Regions from separate parts of the Homo sapiens genome. Here region 1 is linked to region 2. Evidence: fine-mapped expression QTL. A gene starts in region 2. The other region holds a variant in brackets. All regions are shown on one strand. Distances are from middle to middle.

Region 1 (2,896 bases), 110 kb after region 2:
GCAAAACCCTCGCTCTCCTGGGAATCTGAACACAACCAATGGCCAGGCCCCCCTCAGAAGGCCGGGGTGCAGACGGCCCAGGGGCAGGGGACACAACCTACGGCCAGGCACCCCTCAGGAGGCCGGGGTGCAGACGGCCCAGGGGCAGGGGACACAATCCACGGCCAGGCCCCCCTCAGGAGGCCGGGGTGCAGACGGCCCAGGAGCAGGGGACACAACCCACGGCCCTCACCCCTCAGGAGGCCGGGGTGCGGACGGCCCGAGGGCAGGGGGTGGGGGCGGCCCTCACCCCTCAGGAGGCCGGGGTGCAGATGGCCCGGGGGCAGGGGACACAACCCACGCCCAGGCACCCCTCAGGAGGCCAGGGTGCAGACGACCCGGGGGCAGGGGGCGGGGGTGGCCCTCACCCGTGGGGCACTCGCACTGGAACTCATTGATCTTGTCCAGGCAGCGGCCATTGTGCAGGCAGGGGCTGCTGGCACACTCGTCTGTGTTGACCTCGCAGTGCACACCCTCGTAGCCTGTGGGGTGGGGCAACAGTGAGGGGGGCACGCGCGGCCCCAGTGCCCCACTGGGCACAGCTGTGGACTTGGGACAGAAACGAACCCTGCCTCCAGCCCAGTGTCCCAGCCACCACGGGCCCCCTGCGCACCCGCTCCCCTGCAGCCCGTGGCCCCTGGCCCGGCACCCTCATCTGCCTAGCACTGCCCCCGTGCTCTGCTGGCCCTGTGGCCTGGCCTCAGTTTCCCCATGCCCTGTGCAGGCTGTGGGCCCAGAAGGCATGGAGGCTGGGGAAAGCGGAAGCAACCCACAGATGTTCCCGGGGCTGCCCCTCCAAGGCTGCCCAGCCTCGACTCGGTTTCCCGCCCTGGCCCCGGCCGACGCACCGGGCATGCAGATGCACTGGAACTCCCCAATCTGGTCCAGGCAGGTGGCGTCGTTCTGGCACGGGTTCGAGACGCACTCGTTGACGTCGATCTCGCATCGGGGGCCCGTGTAGCCCTGCAGACACTGGCACTCGAAGGAGCCCAGCGTGTTGATGCACTTGCCCGCATGCTCGCAGGGGTTGGCACCTGGCGAGGGCACACGGGTGAGAGGCTGCTCCAGGCACCCTGGCCCCTGCAACACCTCACTGCACACCACCCCCATCGGACTGGCAGGGTCCCATCCCCCATCTAACTGGGCACCCCCTGAAGCCAGAATCGACTTCTCATCGGTTCTGGGGCCAGGCTGCCACCCCCACCTGGCCGCACCCCCTGTGCTGGCACCTACCCAGCGAGCACTCATCCACGTCCTGGCTGCAGGCCGGGCCCGTGTACCCCGAGGGGCAGGTGCAGATGGCCTTGCCATTGACAGGGTTGGTGTCGCAGTTGGAGCCCTCGTTACAGGGGTTGCTGATGCATGCGTCGTTGAGGTGGCACAGCAGACCTGGGCAGGCAGCGGCGGTCAGTGGGCACGGCCCCTGGGCCAGGCATGGCACACCACCCACGGCTGGGGTCCAACCCCACTGACACCCCAGGAGGAGCTGCCCGCCGTGACCCCGTCGGGCATCCCGTGACACTTGGGAC[G/C]TTCCGGGGGACTCACAGCGACCACCGGCCTCCCTGACCAGAAAGGCCCTTTCAGGTTATCCTGGGTGCAGGAGGGCCACAGTCCCTGGGTGAGGTCACACAGCTCAGGCCTGGCCCATGTGAGCCCCCTGCGCCCACCTGGGCCTCAAGGCACTCACCTGTGCGGCCATGGGGACACTCGCAGTAGAAGGAGGCCACACGGTCATGGCAGGTGGCGCCGTGGAAGCAGGCGGCGCTGGCACAGTCATCAATGTTCTCGCTGCAGTCCTCACCAGTCCAGCCGTTGACACACACGCAGTTGTAGCCACCGTGGGTGTTGTGGCAGGTCCCGCCGTTCTGGCAGGCATTTGGCATCAGCTGGCACTCGTCCACATCCTCGGTACAGTACTGACCTGCAGGGAACAGGAGCTGTCGGCCCCGGGCAGCTGCCACTCCCTGAGCTCCCTGTCCCCTAAGACGCAGGGTGGCAATGCCGCCCCCTCCAGGAAGCCTTCCTGGGCTGACTCCTCCACCCACCGCCAGCCTAAATCACTCCTTCCTCTGCAGGCCCAGCACCATGGAGTCTTGCCTCCTCTTTGTGCTCTGTGGACACTGCTGCGTCGGGGTGCACCTTTGCCCGTCACCCCACCAGAGGGTAATTCCCGAACACAGGGCCTGTCTGTTCATCCAGGCATCCCTGTGACTGGCCCAGGAAGCGTGGCCTGAGTGGGGTGCTGAAGGCCCTCAATGCCAGGACACCCCACTGGGCACAGGGGCTGCCTGGAGCCAGGTTGCAAACGGCCCACACAGACCAACCAGGGCCCTGTCTGTGCTGACCCCCGAGGTGAGGGGCACCAGACCCTGGCCACGGGAAGTGGGGCCCCCATCATGTTGTCCTTCTCGGCCAACCCTAGTCTGCCTGGCCTGGGACAGGGTCTCGGCTGCTCCCCGCTATGCCTGTGAGTGCAGTTTAGTAAGTGGGTAGCAGCCCCGCCCCGGCTACCCCGCCCTGCGGCGACCCGTATACGCGCCTGTCCACTCTGGCGGGCAGCGGCAGTTGTAGGTGTTCACGCCGTCCACACAGGCACCCCCGTTCTTGCAGTTGTTTCCTGGACAATCGTCGATATTTTCCTCACAGTTCTGGCCGGTGAAGCCTGCCGCAAGAGGGGCCGGGTCAGCCTCTTCCCTGAGGTCCAGTCCGGCTCCTGCCTGGACCCCCGACACACTGCTCTGGACACAAGAGCCTGGCCTCCACGGCCCTGCCCTGGGGCCCCCGGGGTCTGTGCCCGTCCCCTGCCTCACTCCAGTGCCCAGAGGGACACGCCCTGCTTGAAAGAATCATTTTGGAC
Region 2 (2,858 bases):
GTGCGATCTCGGCTCCCTGCAAGCTCCGCCTCCTGGGTTCACGCCATTCTCCTGCCTCATCCTCCCGAGTAGCTGGGACTACAGGCACCTGCCACCACGCCCGGCTAATTTTTTTGTATTTTTTGTAGAGACGGGTTTTCACCCTGTTAGCCAGGATGGTCTCAATCTCCTGACCTCATGATCCGCCTGCCTCGGCCTCCCAAAGTGCTGGGATTACAGGCGTAAGCCACTGCGCCCGGTCAGCCGAGAAAACTTTAAAAAAAACACAAGCTCCCAGACTTGTGACCCTGGAGATGGCCTGACTTGCAGACTGGCCCTGGTGTCCGTGGTCTGAAAGCGGCTCCTCAGCAGATTTTGAAGCCCAGCCGGGGCAAGCGCGTCCTCTTGTCTTGTGACAACCCCCGAATGTCCTCAGATCCTGGCATAACCACACAAACACTCCTGCACACCCCGGGCACCCAGCAGCACTTCTGCTTGGGTAGAACGAGGACGAACCAGATCTGGCCACTGCCCGGCTGTGGAGGCAGATGGAATGCTCCAGCTCGGTTTCCAATCACTGCCCACTAGGTGAAGGCACCCCGACTCCAGCCCCACGAGGAAAGCGGGCGGGCTCCTGTGCTCCCCGGGCACTAACCATCCTGTACTGGAACTGTCTGTCTTGGGGGAGGTCTCCCCGCAACCAGACTGTGAGCTCCTAGCAGGGGACTCCGCCTTTGAATTCCGAGTGCCTGGCACGCAGTGAGCGCTCTGCACATTGATGGGTCAATGGACGAGCTCGTGCTGCAGCGGAGGTGCCACACGTGGCGCGGGAACTGGAAGCGTCCCCGGGGCCGGCGCCCTCGTCTCTCACCTGTGTCTCCCACGGAAGCCAGCACCGGGCTGGGCACATAGCACATAAAGGCCGGCCGAATGCCGAAGAAGGGGGAGTCCAGGTCCCTGCCATGGGGGCGCTCACAATTTAGCTGGGGGAGACAAGACCGGCGCTCATAGAACGCTGGAGCTGGAAGCAACGACAACAGCGACTTTACTGCGTGCCGGGGCGGCCGCCGCCCACCTGGACCGCTGGACTCGGCCCCTGCCCCGCTCACCGTCGGGAATGGCGAGGCTCCGGGCTCGGGACAGCGGGGTGGCGCCCGGGCGGCGCTGGTAGCCCGACATCGCCGCCGGCCCGGCGGGGCACGACCTGCCTAGCCCGGCAGCGGCGGCTCCATGGCCCCGGCTCCGCCCGTGCCGCGGCCCGCGTCGCCCGCCCCCGTCGCCCGCCCCCGTCGCCCGCCGCTCGGCCGCCCCCGCGCCTCCGAGCCTCTCGCCGCTGCTTCCGCTCCGAGCACCGAAAGCGCGTGCCTGAACGCCTTGGGCCGTCGGCGAGGGGGAGGGGAAGCCGTGGGCGGAAGCGGAAGTGACGACTGAAGCGGGGCGGAGACGCAAGATGGCGGCTGTGGTGCTGGCGGCGACGCGGTTGCTGCGGGGCTCGGGTTCTTGGGGCTGTTCGCGGCTGAGGTGAGCCAAAGGCGAACCAGGCTTCGGCCTGGGGCGGGGGCGGCTCGAGTCTTTCTGGACGCTCCGTCTTCGGTTTCTACAGGTGACATGGCGCCCGTGGGACGGGCTCGCACTTCGGGACACTGGTGTCCCCGAGGCGACGGGGGCCCTGCCTTGCTTTGCGCCTCGAGCCCGGGGACGCAGTCCCATCTGTCTCTCCTCTCCCCGGCTGCTGGGTCCTCTCCCCCCCTCACTTCCCGGGTCGACGGGCCTTCTCCGAGGCCATGCCTCATATTTGCCCCCGCGCTTCACCTACCGCGTGCTCCTTCAGGAGGCTGAGCCGGTGGGGGCCCAGCTCTGTTAGACCCGCAGGGTTCTGACACCAGGGTCCAGGCTCTCGGTTGCTGCGGTCTGTCCGTTGATCTCTGACGTTTAAGAACCCTTTCCGTACCCACCGCTCCTCCCACCCAAGTGACCGGGCCTGCCTTTCCCCACGCTGGAACTTTGTTCCGACAGCACAGGCGTCGCCCCTCCCCACACAACGAGCGCCGTTTCAGGGGTGCGGAGGTGCTGCCTCCAGGAGATGGATACAGGCTGGAGCGTAAACAAAATATCGGCAGTCGCGTAAATGCTTTGGAGTAAACAAGCAGCCTTTCATGATAGAAAATAGCAGGAAAGACTAGACTGGTGAGGGATAGTCCTCCATCAGGGTGACATTTAAGGGAAGAGCTGAAGAATGAAAGAAGGGGTAGGCATGGGCAAAGGGCAAGCCCTGGAACGGTGAAGAAGCTTTGGGGTTGATGAGTCAAATGTGTTCCAGGAATTGACAAGAATCAGTGTGACCAGGACCTATGGGAGTGTGGGGGTTCAAGAGATGAGTTTGGAGAGGGAGACAGAGGCCAAGTCACACCCCGCCTTCGGACCAGGTTAATAAGGGATATGGCTTTTATCCAAGACTTCGGTGGTGCTGTTGGAGGGCAGAGCTGTTAAGTGCTTTATGTGTACAAACTGCACTTAGAGTGAGTTACTGTTAATAAGCCCTGTTTTTACAGAGATAGCAACTAAGACCCAAAGGACGGAACCAGCTTGCTCCAGGTCCCGTGGCTGAGCCTTTGTTGTCAGCCTCTGCTTTGTCTTCCAAAGTCTGTAGAAATAAGTCCTGTAGAAAGGCAGATGCTCACTTTTAACCCAGACAAAACATAACTAACCGCACCTAACAGGTCATCACAGGTTTGTTGTCTCAAGCCTGTTGTAACTGGGCCGCTTTCTCTGTTTTAGGTTTGGACCTCCTGCGTACAGACGGTTTAGTAGTGGTGGTGCCTATCCCAACATCCCCCTCTCTTCTCCCTTACCTGGAGTACCCAAGCCTGTTTTTGCTA

Evidence for each region. PIP is the estimated chance that this variant, and not a neighbour inherited with it, causes the effect.
Region 1: its variant is fine-mapped to the expression of ENTR1 in whole blood (INTERVAL, PIP above 0.99).

Annotation. Positions count from the first base shown.
Region 1 is chr9:136,516,865-136,519,760 of GRCh38, forward strand. NOTCH1 (notch receptor 1) reads right to left here. Exons shown (of 34, transcript NM_017617.5): 5 at 2,579-2,701; 6 at 1,727-1,960; 7 at 1,273-1,428; 8 at 888-1,073; 9 at 408-521. MIR4673 (microRNA 4673) reads right to left here and starts at 2,762; the gene lies at 2,704-2,762. The region is part of intron 1 of LOC124902310 (a long non-coding RNA gene); the gene reads left to right. The variant G/C (reference allele first, on the strand shown) is at 1,569.
Region 2 is chr9:136,409,240-136,412,097 of GRCh38, forward strand. It overlaps ENTR1 (endosome associated trafficking regulator 1), which reads right to left and starts at 1,375. Exons shown (of 10, transcript NM_001039707.2): 1 at 1,089-1,375; 2 at 851-1,000. The coding sequence starts at 1,158. It overlaps PMPCA (peptidase, mitochondrial processing subunit alpha), which reads left to right and starts at 1,419. Exons shown (of 13, transcript NM_015160.3): 1 at 1,419-1,500; 2 at 2,758-2,858. The coding sequence starts at 1,430. RefSeq lists enhancers at 478-637, 1,488-1,577, 1,608-1,657 and silencers at 998-1,047, 1,188-1,277.